Linked DNA regions of Homo sapiens. The main gene of each other region encodes a partner of the protein of the gene in region 2 in a complex. Links are inferred from orthologs where the notes say so. Each region holds a gene or a part of one and is shown on either strand. Other genes may lie near its edges.

Evidence for each region.
Region 1: the proteins of GLB1 (region 2) and CTSA are in contact, whole or in part, in a cryo-EM structure (PDB 7KDV), measured with the Mus musculus proteins. The link is inferred for Homo sapiens from one-to-one orthologs. Residues at the interface, in NP_033882.1 of Mus musculus: Tyr198, Asp199, Arg202, His206, Leu229, Thr233, Leu234, Gln235, Asp236, Leu237, Lys258, Phe259, Glu260; in NP_001033581.1 of Mus musculus: Glu29, Asp31, Ala37, Lys38, Gln39, Pro40, Ser41, Phe42, Arg43, Tyr107.

The regions. Positions count from the first base shown.
Region 1 is NC_000020.11:45,886,595-45,894,334, forward strand, and holds the start of CTSA (lysosomal protective protein isoform b preproprotein), read left to right. Parts: upstream 1-4,740; 5' UTR 4,741-4,785; exon of another isoform or gene 4,786-4,831; intron 4,832-4,974; coding exon 4,975-5,168; intron 5,169-5,321; coding exon 5,322-5,433; intron 5,434-5,678; coding exon 5,679-5,729; intron 5,730-5,803; coding exon 5,804-5,890; intron 5,891-6,130; coding exon 6,131-6,286; exon of another isoform or gene 6,287-6,293; intron 6,294-6,625; coding exon 6,626-6,717; intron 6,718-7,393; coding exon 7,394-7,478; intron 7,479-7,740. Other genes in the region: SPATA25 (spermatogenesis-associated protein 25), read right to left, coding at 1-551, 942-996; NEURL2 (neuralized-like protein 2), read right to left, coding at 2,164-2,279, 3,656-4,397. UniProt on the Homo sapiens protein: Protective protein appears to be essential for both the activity of beta-galactosidase and neuraminidase, it associates with these enzymes and exerts a protective function necessary for their stability and activity.
Region 2 is NC_000003.12:33,094,098-33,101,508, reverse strand, and holds the start of GLB1 (beta-galactosidase isoform a preproprotein), read left to right. Parts: upstream 1-4,362; 5' UTR 4,363-4,423; coding exon 4,424-4,498; exon of another isoform or gene 4,499-4,790; intron 4,791-7,205; exon of another isoform or gene 7,206-7,313; coding exon of another isoform or gene 7,314-7,411. Other genes in the region: TMPPE (transmembrane protein with metallophosphoesterase domain), read left to right, coding at 7,314-7,411.

The sequences.
Region 1 (7,740 bases), on a different chromosome or scaffold from region 2:
CTGCTCCCACCGCGCCCCCTCCACAGCACCCTCTGGCTCCGGATGGGCCATCATGAAAGCTTGAGCGGCCCAGATCAGGTCCTCTTCCCGAACTCCTGGGACGGGCACGGTGGGGATGCCAGCGATCATCATGGCGAGGGTGAGGATGCAGATATCAGGCTGGGAGCTGGCCTCCTTCCCCACTGCCTCAGAGGGTACCGGTAGAACCCGTGGTGACAGCCCACACAGCATCAGGGGCCTAGGCCTGCTGGGGCCACCCAGGTCAGGGGCTCTGCTTCTGGAGTAGCCATTGTCCCAGCCCAAGCTCTCCAGCTGCCTCACATGCGGGAATTTGTGGCAGTTTCGGCTGTATTCCTTCCGTAGTGTCTCCCAGCTAGTCCCCCCAGGGCAGCCCCTGGCTTGTGGCATTGCCAGGGCTGGGCCCCAGGCCTGGGCAGCAGGTGCCACCTGCTCAGCTTTCTGGCTCAGTGGGCCTGTTCCACCAGAGGCCACCACCACTGGCTCTACAGGACTACAGAGGCCAAGGGACAAGCCTGGAGAAGCAGCCCCACCTGCAGAGACAGGAATGAAATGGAACGTTATTCTCAGTTCTTTGAGGAGGGGGCCCTGAGGGGCAGGGCATGGGAGCAGAGCTTGGGGGCGTAACTAAGACCAGCCCCAGCGGACTGTCTAGAGGTTGGGAACTAGGTGTTACTCATATCCACACTCCCAGTCCCCAACACGGAGTAGGTGATGGAGAAGCGTTTGTTGAATTAATGAATAGTGAGCAAGCGGGTAGTTATTGATTGGCAAGGATGTTTGGAATGGCTTTTCTTCTAAAAGAATTGATTCTAGGGCCAGCCCCCAAATGCCCAGCAGAACCGCCACCTCCCCAGAGCCAGAAAGCAACTTCTCAGGGGAAGCTGCCGCACTCCCTCCAATTGCAGGTGCCCCCCGCTCACCTTGGCCGGAAGGCAGAGGACCTGGATGAGTTTGTGGAGTCCTGAAGTAGGACATGGCTTCCCCAAAGCCCCGGTTTGTGAGGGAATAGTGATCTGCCGCCTGTCCTCCCTTCTTCACCCTTCTAGAATGTCACCTCATAGACCCTCCCCTTCACACTTGGAATCCACTTTACAGCGTTGACCTATTCATTCTAGAACCTGGACATGACAATAGGATGAGGTTAAAAGAGCACCAGACCAGGAGCTGGGTGTTCTAGGTTCTTGCCCTAACCTTGAACGAGTCACCCAGATAGTTTTGTTCCTTGATATCCTTATCTGTAAAGTGTGTCTGATGACTGCCCACTACCTCATTAGGAGTTTTGAGGATGAAATGAGATCATTTGTATGGAAGCAGATGACCAGAGATGGAAACACAGGAGCCAAGTGCTTCGTGCCTTGTAGAGTAAGACTTCGGGTCAGACCCAGTATTGGTATTTTTCTTTTTCTTTTTTTGAGACAGAGTCTCACTTTGTCGCCATGACTGGAAGGCTGGAGTGCAGGAGCAAGACCTCAGCTCACTGCAACCTCTGCCTCCTGGGTTCATGCAATTCTCCTGCCTCAGCCTCCCGAGTAGCTGGGACTACAGGAACCTGCCACCACACCTGGCTAACTTTTGTATTTTTAGTAGAGACAGGGTTTCACCATGTTGGCCAGGCTGGTCTCAAACTCCTGACCTCAAGTGATCTGCCCACCTCGGCCTCCCAAAGTGCTGGGATTACAGGCCAGGTATTGGTATTTTTCAAAATTCCTCAAGTGATTATAATATATGACAAAGTTGGAACCTTTTTTCTAGGGACATACTTCTCAACCCTGGCTGTACATGAGAATCTCTTGAGAAGCTTTTACAAAACACAATGTCTAGGCCTAATTTCCCAACAAATCAAATACGAATCCCTAGGGATGGGATGTGGGACACCAGCACTCTTTACATATCCTAAGATGACTCTAACAAGCAGCCAGCCTAGGGACCCCTGCTCTTTTGCTCCGACCTGCTGACCTGCAGTGATTCTAAACGAAGTGACTCTCATAGGCTGTAGGGGCAAGGAGACCTTCCAGTGATCAAGATGTCAGCATCGGCTGTTTATTTCTGGTCTTGGCTGGCAGCAATGTGGCCAACTTCGGACCAGCCAGCCACAGGTCTGGGGCTCCAGGATGCAGCTGTGCTCTGGTGCACTGTGGGTCTTCACTCATACTTGCAGAAATCCTTAAGTTCTTTGGGCAGGTGGAGCCCATCAATGGCCAGCCGGTGCACCATGCTCCTTTGTATCACTAGGCGGCACAGAGTCTGCAGGGATGGCACTGTGGGAAGAAGACTGTGAAAGGCAAACTGAACTGGAGGGTGGGTCTGAGGCCAAGATCCAGAAGGTCTAGGTCATGGTCCCCACTTTGTCATTAAATGTGGGCAAGTCCTTACTGCTCTCTGGGCCCAGCCTGCTTCATGGGGCTGAGAGAAGCACCTCTTCCTGAGAGCTGCCACAAAGCTGCAGCCCTGTTTATATCATAACACTTAGCACAATCCCTTCCCCATTCACTTAGCAGCTTCTGGGGGCAGGGGTAGTGTCTGATTTGCCTGTGCAACTGAAGCCTCCAGCACAGGCCTGGCACAAAGAGGGTTCTGGTGCATTGAGTTCATGAAATGTGATGAGAGGTATAACTGCAATGCTTACCAGGGCTATAATGAATCATACTCAGCATTAAGAAGCTCTCAGTCTGGGGTTTGTTATGCCTCGAAGCCAATAGCCAATATGCCCAAGTCTATGAGCATGTTTCTTTCTTTTCTTTCTTTTTTTTTTTTTATTTAAAGAGAGAGGGTCTTGCTCTGTCACCCAGGCTGAAGTGCAGTGCTCAGTGAACTGCAGCCTTCAATTCTTGGGCTCAAGCGATCCTCCTGCCTTAGCCTCCCAAATAGCTGGGACTACAGGCATGCACCACCATGCCCAGATAATTATTTAATTTTTTGTACAGATGGGGTCTCACTTTGTTGCCCAGGCTTGAGCTAGCTAGCTTGCTTGCTTGCTTGCTTTCTCTCTCTTCCTCTCTCTCTCTCTTTCTTTTTTTTTTCAGAGTCTTGCTCTGTTGCCTAGGCTGGAGTGCACTGGTGAGATCTCGGCTCATTGCAACCTCCACCTCTCGGGTTCAAGTGACTCTCCTGCCTCAGCCTTCTGAATAGCTGGGATTATTGGCACATGCCACCACACCCAGCTACTTTTTGTATTTTTAGTAGAGACAGGCTTTCACCATGTTGGCCAGGCTGGTCTCGAACTCCTGGCCTCAAGTGATCTGCCTGCCTCCCCCTCCCAAAGTGCTGGGATTACAGGTGTGAGCCACTGTGCCCGGCCAAGCATGTTTCTAAGAAAAGGGCAAACAATTCTCAAAGAGGCCCCTAATATCTAAAATTGGTTTAGAATCCCTGCCCTAGGTGAATACAGGAAACACTATCAAAACTAAAAGGGAACTTGTAGGGCATCTTAATCAATCAACCAAGATAGGTACCAAGGCCCAAAACCATGTAGAGGCTTGTGCAAGATCACAAGCAGAGGTGCAATTTGAAGCTAGATTCTCCCACTCTTAAACTAGTGCCGGACAGACGAAGGCCTAGCACATGGGCTACGGAGCCCTAGTAGATTCCAGTCCCCACACTGAGCCAGGAGGGGTCGCTGCCCAGGGATACCTACAGCCATACTCGAGCTGGACAAGGCGCACGCTCTTTGTGGAAGCAAACACGTCCACCACCGCGTAGAGGGGCTGCGCAGCTGGCAGTCCCCGGGCGCTCGGGCCCATGTCCTCGCCGTTGATGATGATGTGCATGTCGGCCGTGCCATCGGGGCGCGGGCAAAAGAGGACACCCAGGCGGCTACGGCGCGCGGTCGGAGGCAGCACGTTCAGCTCATAGAGCTGGTCCAAGAGATGGCTGTAGAGCCCTGGCCGGCTGCGGCCCACCAGGCGGTCCCGGGGAATGCGAAACTGCTCAATGCGCAGATATGGTTCCACGAGGAGGGTTGGAGGTCGGCTGGGGGCCGCTGCCTCCGCCTCCGGGCGGCCCTCCCGGGGCACGCGGTTGTGGTGGCGCGTGATGGCGAAGACCCAGGTGTGGCCCAGGTTGACCAGATCGGGCAGAGAAAACTCGGGAACGGGGGCCAGACTGGCGGGGTCCAGCGCGGTCAGACCGAGACGCAGATGTCCGCACCAGCCCAGCTCTTTCTCCTCGATCTCGACCAGGAAGACCTGGCCCGGGGCCAGCGGCTCGCGGCTGAAGCACACGCCGTGGGCGAAGCTCTCCACGCGTGTGGCCCGCGTCCCAGAGGGGTCCACGCGGATGTTGGCACCGTGCACCCGATGGAAGCGGGTGGGAGGGGGCTCCGGGCGCTCGAGTCCCCAGAGTGCACCCGAATCCACGGGCTCGGAGGCAGCAGCCATCTCTCGGCCATAGGGCAGGCCAGCTGGCGCCGGGGGCTATTTTGGGCGGCGGGCAATGATGGTGACCGCAAGGCGACCTTGTAAGGCATTTCCCCCCTGACTCCCTTCCCCGAGCCTCTGCCCGGGGGTCCTAGCGCCGCTTTCTCAGCCATCCCGCCTACAACTTAGCCGTCCACAACAGGATCATCTGATCGCGTGCGCCCGGGCTACGATCTGCGAGGCCCGCGGACCTTGACCCGGCATTGACCGCCACCGCCCCCCAGGTCCGTAGGGACCAAAGAAGGGGCGGGAGGAAGACTGTCACGTGGCGCCGGAGTTCACGTGACTCGTACACATGACTTCCAGTCCCCGGGCGCCTCCTGGAGAGCAAGGACGCGGGGGAGCAGAGGTGAGCTGGCACCGGAGGCTGGAGGGGATCCCCGAGCCCGGGATCGGTGCGCGGCAGAGGAGGCTCGCGGGTGGGAGCTGGCGCTGGGGCCGGGGCTTCCCTCGCGGAGGCGCCGCCAGCAACTCCCCGGGGGCTGCTGCACGGAAGCGCTGAGGAGCGAGTCAACAGCCCCTCTGCTGCCTCCCGTAGATGATCCGAGCCGCGCCGCCGCCGCTGTTCCTGCTGCTGCTGCTGCTGCTGCTGCTAGTGTCCTGGGCGTCCCGAGGCGAGGCAGCCCCCGACCAGGACGAGATCCAGCGCCTCCCCGGGCTGGCCAAGCAGCCGTCTTTCCGCCAGTACTCCGGCTACCTCAAAGGCTCCGGCTCCAAGCACCTCCACTACTGGTCTGCCGCCCTGCCTTCTGGGCGGGATTGGGAGAAGAGATGACGGATGAGGGATGGGGGGTAGTTCTGCAGACCCCTGAGGATGCCTGGGAGCCGGGAGGGCTGGAAAGGGCCCCTCCAACTGCGCCAACCCTGCCCTGACCCCCCTCCCAGGTTTGTGGAGTCCCAGAAGGATCCCGAGAACAGCCCTGTGGTGCTTTGGCTCAATGGGGGTCCCGGCTGCAGCTCACTAGATGGGCTCCTCACAGAGCATGGCCCCTTCCTGGTGAGTGGACAGCAGGGGGAAAGCACAGTTCCCAAAGTAAAAGGCTGGGGAAAGCGAGAGAGGGGCTTTGTGATTTTCCAAAAAGTTTCCTTCCTTCTAAGCCTCGGGATTTTCCTCTATGCCATTGGCTTTGCTGCCTGTACCTCTCAGAGGTTTTACCCACATGTAAAGTGCCTCTCATGGTGGCCCTTTCCCTCCACCCAGCTGGCCCTTGGGACTTACTCAGCCATCTCTTTCCTCCTCAGGTCCAGCCAGATGGTGTCACCCTGGAGTACAACCCCTATTCTTGGAATCTGGTATAGCTGGAGCTGTGGGTGTGTCTGGGCACTTGGATGGGGTGGCATTTAGCTAATTTTTCCCTCCCCTCTAGATTGCCAATGTGTTATACCTGGAGTCCCCAGCTGGGGTGGGCTTCTCCTACTCCGATGACAAGTTTTATGCAACTAATGACACTGAGGTGAGTCTGGTGCCTGCCCATCTGCCCCAGGCTCCCCGGTCCTCCATCCATGGCATGATGCTGGGAGAGAGAGCATGGCCTTGGAGTCTACTTTTCGCTCTGTCATATGCTATTGTGGTATGGTGGCCAGTCACTTCCTCTTGCACAAATAGGGTGGGTTAATGTCATTATCTCTGAAGTTCTTTCCAGTTCAAATACCAAAGCTTCCTGATTCCCTCTGTCTTGCTCTGCCATCCCCAGGTCGCCCAGAGCAATTTTGAGGCCCTTCAAGATTTCTTCCGCCTCTTTCCGGAGTACAAGAACAACAAACTTTTCCTGACCGGGGAGAGCTATGCTGGCATCTACATCCCCACCCTGGCCGTGCTGGTCATGCAGGATCCCAGCATGAACCTTCAGGTGCAGGGTAGCTGCAGGAGGGAAGGGAGGTAGCTTGAGGCTGTGGCCTTACAGTTAGCAAGGTCAGACTGACTGGTCAATGTCCCCATCCAACCCAGCTTCCTGCATAACCTCCCCACCACCGGCTGCCCTAGGTCTGTCTGTGTGCCTCCCACACAGGAAACTCACCTGTCAGGCTGCCAGCTCTGTGTTTTGCATTGAGTGGCCTCTCATACCCACCGGCCTACATAAACCACCCTGGGTTTCAGCTTCCGGATTGCTGAAGGTCTGGGTGGTAGGGTGAGGGAGGCTCTTCCTTTTTGCCCTCCACATGAGCTGAGCACCCTGGGTGTTTCACAGGGGCTGGCTGTGGGCAATGGACTCTCCTCCTATGAGCAGAATGACAACTCCCTGGTCTACTTTGCCTACTACCATGGCCTTCTGGGGAACAGGTATGGGATAGGGCAGTTGGGCAATCTCTGGGGTGAGGCAGGTCACATGATCTCAGGTCTGTCCTCCAGGCACATGATATGACAGGCCCAGCCCAGGTTTATGAGCAGCAGGTGGGTTGCAGAAAGAACCTAGTGCTGAAAGGCCAAAGAATAGAGATCAGTTTTTCTTTCTTTCTTTTTTTTTTTTTTGAGACAGATTCTTACTTTGTCACCCAGGCTGGAGTGCAGTGGCACGATCTTAGCTCACTGCAACCTCCACCTCCCAGGTTCAAGCAATTCTCATGCCTCAGACTCCCAGGCAGCTGGGACTACAGGCGCGTACCACCACACCTGCCTAATTTTTTGTATTTTTAGTAGAGATGGGGTTTTGCTGTGTTGGCCAGGCTGGACTTGAACTCCTGGCCTCAAATGATCTTCCCAAAGTGCTGGGATTACAGGCATGAGCTACAGCGCCCAGCCAGAAATCAGATTTTAAAGGAACTAAGGAGGCCTGTCTGTATGACCCTGGGGCACCTCTTTGGGAGCTAGCTTAGATGACATACAGACCACACCCTGTGATATCTTTCCCAGTCTCCTAGGGTCAGGGAGGTTGGTGGGAGGTGGGGGGTATGCTCGCCTCCTCTGCCTTCCTCTTCCCACCAGCAGCTGATGCGCTTTTCACTCTCATCTCCTACAGGCTTTGGTCTTCTCTCCAGACCCACTGCTGCTCTCAAAACAAGTGTAACTTCTATGACAACAAAGACCTGGAATGCGTGACCAATGTGAGGTTCTGCCATCACTTTGCATGAGCTCTCCCATCCCTAATCCTGAGAACAGGACCACATTCCCTCCTTGGGGACTCCTTGTTCTCCGTCCCTCATTGCTTTCTTGCACCTTTAAGCAATTTAGTGTTCTCTGGGACATGTGTCTAAGTGTGTATTCCCACCACCACCTCCTATGGTGGCAAATCCCATAACCTCCGTGAGGAGAAAGGACTTCTTCACATTTATCAAACACCTGCAACGTGGCAGGCACTGTGCTGAA
Region 2 (7,411 bases):
AAAATAGGCCGGGTGTGGTGGCTCACACCTGTTATCCTAGCACTTTGGGAGGCTGAGGGGGGTGGATTGCCTGAGCTCAGGAGCTCAAGACCAGCCTGGGCAACATGGTGAAACCCCATCTCTACTAAAATACGAAAAAATCAGCCTGGCATGGTGGTGTGAGCCTGTAGTCCCAGCTACTCAGGAGGCCGAGGTTTAATTGCGAGAACCCAGGAGGTGGAGGTTGCAGTGAGCCAAGATCATGCCACTGCGCTCCAGTCTGGGCGACAAAGTGAAACTCTGTCTCAAAAACAAACAAACAAAAACTACTAGAGGCCAGGCGTGGTGGCTCACGCCTGTAATCCCAGCACTTTGGGAGGCCGAGGCAGGTGGATCACCTGAGGTCAGGAGTTTGAGACCAGCCTGACCAACATGGAGAAACCCCATCTCTACTGAAAATATAAAAGTAGCGGGGCATGGTGGCACATGCCTGTAATCCCAGCTACTCAGGAGGCTGAGGCAGGAGAATCGCTTGAATCCAGGAGGCAGAGGTTGCAGTGAGCCAAGATCGTGCCATTGCACTCCAGCCTGGGCAATAAAAGCGAAACTCTGTCTAAAAAAATAAAAATAAAACATTACTAGAACAATGAAATAAAAATAGATGCGTAATGATTTTGTTCATTATTAGATTCAACAGATAGACTTACTTTCTCAAATTGCTGCAAGTTTCTAAGTGCCTAGGCTGAATTTCTGTACTTATTGCACAGCACTGGTCTAAGGATCAGACTCTGAGAAGTATTAGTCTATATTAGAGCATGTACCATGTTTAGAGATGAGTGCCTGCAGGGTGACAGCCTTCTCATGGTCCCTTCATATTCTCCAGTATGCAGGGGGCTTTGCATCCAGCACACTCTGTCTGTGCATTTAAATGGGAACCAAACAGTACACTATGAGCAGAAGCATAGCCTTGTGAAAATAACTCAGGCCCTAACGTCAGGCAATGTAACTTTAGAGACTCTACTGCTCCCCAGCTCTGTGGCTACTGGCAAGTCATTTAACTCCTCTGGGTCTCAGCTTTCTCATCTGTGAAATGTGGATAAGAGCATGCAGCTCGGATTGGGAGGAATAGTGACACATACTGGTAAAGCATTCAGCACAACAATGGCTATTACTACTATTGCCATTTCAACTACAAACATAGTCAAATACTAAAAATCTCAGAAACAATCTACAATCTATATTCCTTTGGCAAGCTTATACTGTAAAGGGCTAGAACATAAATATATTCAGTTTTGTAGGTCCTAAGATCTGTGTTGCAACTACTCCATTCTACCGTTGTAGCGTGAAAGCAACCATATGCAATATGCAGAGGATTATAGGTGGCTGTGTTCTAAGAAAACTATTTATGTGTAATCTTGGCACTTTGGCAGCCAAAGTGGGCAGATTACTTGAGGCCAGGAGTTCAAGACCAACCCTGGCAACAAGGCAAGATCTTGTCTTTAGAAAAAAAAAAATTATTCAGGCATGGTGGCACTCGCCTGTAGTCCCAGCTACTTAGCTACTCAGGAGGCCGACATGGGACGACTGCTTCAGCTCAGGAGTTCAAGGCTGCTGTGAGCTATGATTGCACCACTGCACTCCAGCCTGGGTGACAGAGCAAGACTGTGTCTAAAAAAACAAAACAAAACAAAAAAAACAAAAACCAACCCCACAAAACTTTATTTATGGACACTGACACAGGAAACTTACAACATTTTCAAATGTCATAAAATATTATTCTTTTGATTTTTTTTCATTCATTTAAAAATGTAAAAACCATTTTTAGGTGGCAGGCCATAGAAAAACTGGCAGCAAATTGTGCCGATTCTTAGTAAAAAGAATTTTAAAAAGAAAAAGAAAAACAGGCAGCAGGCCAGATTTGATCCTCTGCCCTTAGTTTGCCAACTCCTGCTCTAAACCCTTTCTACCTCAGTTCAGTTAAAAATACCTATTGCATATGATAACCCTGAGTGTACAGAGTAGGAAAGAAGGTAGAAGAAGTTGAATCTGCCATGTGTTAAGGATTTTTGTTTTGTTTTGTTTTTAAACTTCGTTCTGCAATAATTTCAGGCTTAGAAACAAAAAGTTGAAAAAAAGAGTAAAAATAATTCCTTCATTGATTTTCCAAATGTTAACATTTTACCACATTTGCTTTTCTTTCTCACGTTCTTTTCATGCCTGGAATACCATTTCTCTCCCTCTCTCTCTCTCTCTTTCTCTCTCTCTCCATTTTTTTTTGTGAACTGTTTGAGAATCAGTTGCAAAGATGATGCCCTTTTGTTTCCTAAAAAACAAGGATGTTCTTTTATATAACCATTACCAAAATTACCATTACCGTTACCCAAATCAATACACTAATACAAAACTATTATTTAATATTTAGACCGTGTACCATTATCAAAATCAGAAAGTTAACATTGATGCGGCCGGGCACAGTGGCTCATGCCTGTAATCCCAGCACTTTGGGAGGCCGAGGTGGGCAAATCACTTGAGGTCAAGAGCTCCAGACCAGCCTGGCTAACATGGTGATACCCCATCTCTACTAAAAATACAAAAATTAGCCAAGCCTAGTGGTGGGTGCCTGTAATCCCAGCTACTTTGGAGGCTGAGGTGGGAGAATCACTTGAACCTGGGAGGCGGAGGTTGCAGTGAGCCGAGATTGTGCCACTGCACTCCAGCCTGGGTGACAGAGTGAGACTCTGTCCCCCCACCCCCCCAAAAAGGAAATTAACATTGATGCATGGTACTAATCTAACCTACAAGTCTAATTCTGATTTCATCAACTGTCCCACTAACATCCTGTATATACCAAGCTTCTTATCGTCATCATCTCTGGTAATTTCCCCAATTATCCAGTGAATTTGATATTATTAGCCCTGCTTTACCAACAAAGAAACTAAGCTCAGAGAGGTTAAGTAATTTGCCCACAGTTACACAGACAGTAAGTGGCAGAGCTGGAATTCCAACTCAAGTGTACTTCCTCCAGAGCCCTTGTTCTTTAATACTGAACTAGAATTGCAGAGCTTGGAAAGGACTTCACAGTGCAAGGACACGGAATTGGTACTACAGGCATGAAAAGAAGCCAGGCACGGTGGCTCATGTCTGTAATTCCAGCATTTTGGGAGTTCCAGGCAGGTAGATTGCTTGATCCCAGAACTTCAAGACCTGCCTGGGAAACGTGGTGAGACCCTGTCTCTACAAAAAATACAAAAATTAGCCGGGTGTGGTGGCGCACGCCTGTAGTCCCAGCCACTTGGTAGGCTGAGACGGGAGAATTGCTTGAGCCCAGGAGGCCAAAGCTGCAGTAAGCCGTGATTGCGCCCCACTCCAGCCTGGGTGACAGAGTGAGACCCTGTCTCAAAAAACACAAAAACAAAACAAAAAAACAACCCCCCAAACCAAAAAACAAAAACCTAAGAAAAGCCAGTAACTGATACTTTCTCAATCTCTCAATGAAATGTCCTTTCTGATACTTTCTCAATCTCTCAAGGACATGTCCGGTAGGAAAGGAGAAAGGAGTGAACAAATAGAATTTTGGCTACTTTGTTATACAATGTAAAAAGGCTTTTTGGAACACCAAGGCATAAACTAAGGTTATTTTAAAAAAGAAAATTTTTTTTTGATACGGAATTTCGCTCTTATTGCCCAGGCTGGAGCGCAATGGCTCGATCTCGGTTTACTGCAACCTCCACCTCCCGGGTTCAAGCGATTCTCCTGTCTCAGCCTCCTCAGTAGCTGGGATTACAGGCGCCTGCCACCACGCCCGGCTAATTTTTGTATTTTTAGTAGAGACGGGGTTTCATCATACTGGTCAGGCTGGTCTGGAACTCCTGACCTCAGGCGATCCGCCCGCCTCGGCCTCCCAAAGTGCTGGGATTACAGGCGTGAGCAGGATTTTCATTCTAACAAGTTCCAGGTGAGTTGATACAGTGGCTCCAGGGACCGACCACATTTTGCTAACCCCCGGCTTAGAGTTATTCAAAGAGCCCGTATATGAGACGCGGATTCCATCTAGGGCGTTTAGGTTTAATGATTAACAATTTCCCTCTTCTGCTCTCTCAAGGCAGCCAGGGAACAGGGAGACCATGATTCATGTCCAATCCCCGAGGCGCGTTATCAAGCTGCTGAAAGCAGGCCCTCCGGACTGCAGTTCCAAAGGGTCCCTTCCCAGGGAAGACGCCTGCAAAACCCAGATAGTACTATCCTGGAGTCACGCGGCGGCGCGCAGCCTCCTAGCCGCCCCCACCCGCCCGGCTCGGCCACAGCGGGGCGGGGCGCGGGGCTGAGCAGGCGCGAGGGCTGGCTGCTGGGCCGACGAGGGGCGGTGCCAGGCCGTGGGTCCTTAGTCAAGTGACGCGAAGCGGCCGGCCTGGGCGCCGACTGCAGAGCCGGGAGGCTGGTGGTCATGCCGGGGTTCCTGGTTCGCATCCTCCCTCTGTTGCTGGTTCTGCTGCTTCTGGGCCCTACGCGCGGCTTGCGCGTAAGTCTGCGGGACCCGGGTACGGGGAGGCATTGCTAGGGGACAGGCTGGCGGGGAACCGGGCTGGGGTCGCAGCCACCCGCGGTCCCGCAGGGCGGGGAGCCTGAGCCCCGAAGTGCCCCCCAGCAGGCTCGCGGCCGGCGGAACGCAGGCAGTGGACCGGCCTTCCCGTCGGGGGCGGGCCGGGCGGGGCGCGCGTCCTTCCAGGCAGCTCGGTCGCTTGTGCGTTCCGCTCCGGCCGCCCTTTGCGCTTGGATCCACTTCCCCATCTGTAACGAGGTGTTGAGACGAGGTGCGTGTAAACATTTCCTAAGTTGGCTTTCCGGGAGGGGATTCCAAGTTGCGCGGGTTAGAGGGTGCCTCCGGCTCTGGTTTGGGGCGCCCTCGCTTTCCCAGTTGGTGCTCTGCGGAGCGCTCCGGAAGGAGAAAAATGGGGTCAGGAGAGGCCCTTGCAGTGGGAACATTGGGTTATTTCCCCTCTGGGTGCTCTCCCTCTTCGTGCATCTTGTTCCTTTCTCACCACTCCCCGTCGCCTGCCCTTTGGCTTGGGTTTTTCTTTGTATTTGTGGGACCGTTTTCCTTCGGCGTTTGGGGGTCCAGGTTGAGGGGGGGAATAGGCAGGCTGCCGGGGGATGCCATCGTTGATCGGGGCAGGGCTGGCGAGGCGAATAGGTGAGGTGCGGGGCGTGCACAGTTGGTGGGAGAGGAAGGACAGCTTCACTCGCTGCGTCCGAGCTGAGGCGACTGGCTGAGGGGCTCCAAAGCGCTGCCTGGGGAGGTTTGCATCACACCTGCGGAAAGGAGAGTGGGTAGTTGCAAGCTGCTCCTCTGCACGTTCCGCGGACCAACTTTGGTTCCTCCAGGGTGTAGGTGGGCTGAGCCTGCAGTATGCTTTAAGTAAGAGCTGGTAGCATTTGACACCGTTGACTTGTAAGTTACACCCTTTAATAACGCTTTCAATAACGTGCCTAGGGCAGAGAAAAGTGGTACATTTATCTACAACCAAGATTGAACATCTTAAGTATTTGGAAAACAGCTGCTGAAAATGTTTTCATTTTGGGAAAAAGTCAGCACAGATTATTTGCTGCTCCCTCTTCACCCCGTCTGTGGTTCCCCTACCCCAGTATGTAGACAGAGTTTTCTTGTCCAGAAGGCCCGTAGGACCTTAGGAGTCAGAGCTAGCCAGCTGTGAGAACCACTGGGGAAGGTGGAACTGGGGCACAGTTCAGGAGAACAGTGGCAGGGTAAGGGGCTAGGGGAAAGGCAGATCTTAACCAGTATCTGGGAGTGGGGGTAGGGAGAGAGAGAAGGATTTATGAACCAGGAACAGGTGGACAGGGTCAATCTGTCTGATGTGAGCTCATCAGTCTTGTGCAGCGTCATTGGGTCAGGGTGGATGCCCTGTGGCTGCCATACCTGAGGCCCACACAGGGAGGCTGGCATCACCCCAGGAATTCTCATTTCAGGTGCCTAGGTGTCCCTCTTGGGCTTCTGTGCCCACAGCTAAAGAAAGATACCAGCAGTCTAGCTTTCCATTATCTCCTTGTTTACATTTCTTTAGGGTTCACGCCATTCTCCTGCCTCAGCCTCCCGAGTAGCTGGGACTACAGGCGCCCGCCATCACACCCGACTAATTTTTTTCTTTTTTTGTATTTTTAGTAGAGACGGGGTTTCACCATGTTAGCCAGGATGGTCTCGATCTCCTGACCTCGTGACCCAGCGGTTCTCAAATTTTAACTAAATTTTAGCTGTCCTAGAAATTAAGAGAATATTCCTTTTTTTTTTTTTTTTTTTTTTTTTGAGACAGAGTCTCGCTCTTTTGCCCAGGCTGGAGTGCAGTGGCACGATCTTGGCTCACTACAACTTCCACCTCCCAGGTTCAAGTGATTCTCCTGCCTCAGCCTCCCGAGTAGCTGGGATTACATGCATCCACCACCATGCCTGGCTAATTTTTGAATTTTTAGTAGAGACAGGGTTTTACCATGTTGGCCAGGCTGGTCTTGAACTCCTGACCTCAGGTAATCTGCCTGCCTCGGCCTCCCAAAGTGCTGGAATTATAGGCGTCAGCCACTGTGCCCAGCCCTAGAGAATATTTTAAACTATTTGTTAAGAAATACTACATCATTACACGTTAATAAACAATATATATATTTGAAAAACAATAGTATTTCTCCCCAAATTTTAGGGTGAAGAGTTGCACTGTTTTACATTTCTGCAAATCTCTTTCAATGTCTCTTAATAGAAGACAGTCAAATTTTCATGTTTATTTCTGCATTAAATCTGTTGCCATATCACATGTCACATAGCCTCTGGAAGACTCCACCCCCTCAGGACAGAGTGAGAATGGAAAAGGCAGTAATGGCTTGGAATTATAATAAAAATAGTTTTGACTAATTGGACCCCTGAAGGGCTCTCTCCAGACCACACTTTGAATACCGCTGATTTGGAATGTTTTTATAAAACAAGTACATGCTTACTGTAGAGAAACTTTAAACGTATAGAACATGTGGTAAGAAAATGAAAACTGCCCATCATGTCACAATGCTGTGAGTTTCTTTTTGAATAATAAAGTATAGCTAGCAACTGACTGGTATTTGAGTAGCTTGGATTCAAGGTGGGTTGGGCAGATGTAAGTGGCCTTTGAGTTTTGAATGGGTACAAGGACACTCTAATATCCCACAAAGCTGATGCTGGTTCCTGGTTGCAGGCGGAGTTGACCTGGAAACCTCTCCTTGGCCACTGTCCTTTCTAAGGAACTCATTTCCAGAGTCCACCAGCACAGAACTGGTGGGGGAGCCTACTAGGAGCAGAGAAAATGGCCATCTTCAGGCAGCTGTCCCTAGGCGCGAAGGCCACCCTGGCTGCTGTCACTGTCTTCGTGTCCATGATCGCCTCCCGCTCGTATCTGGCAGA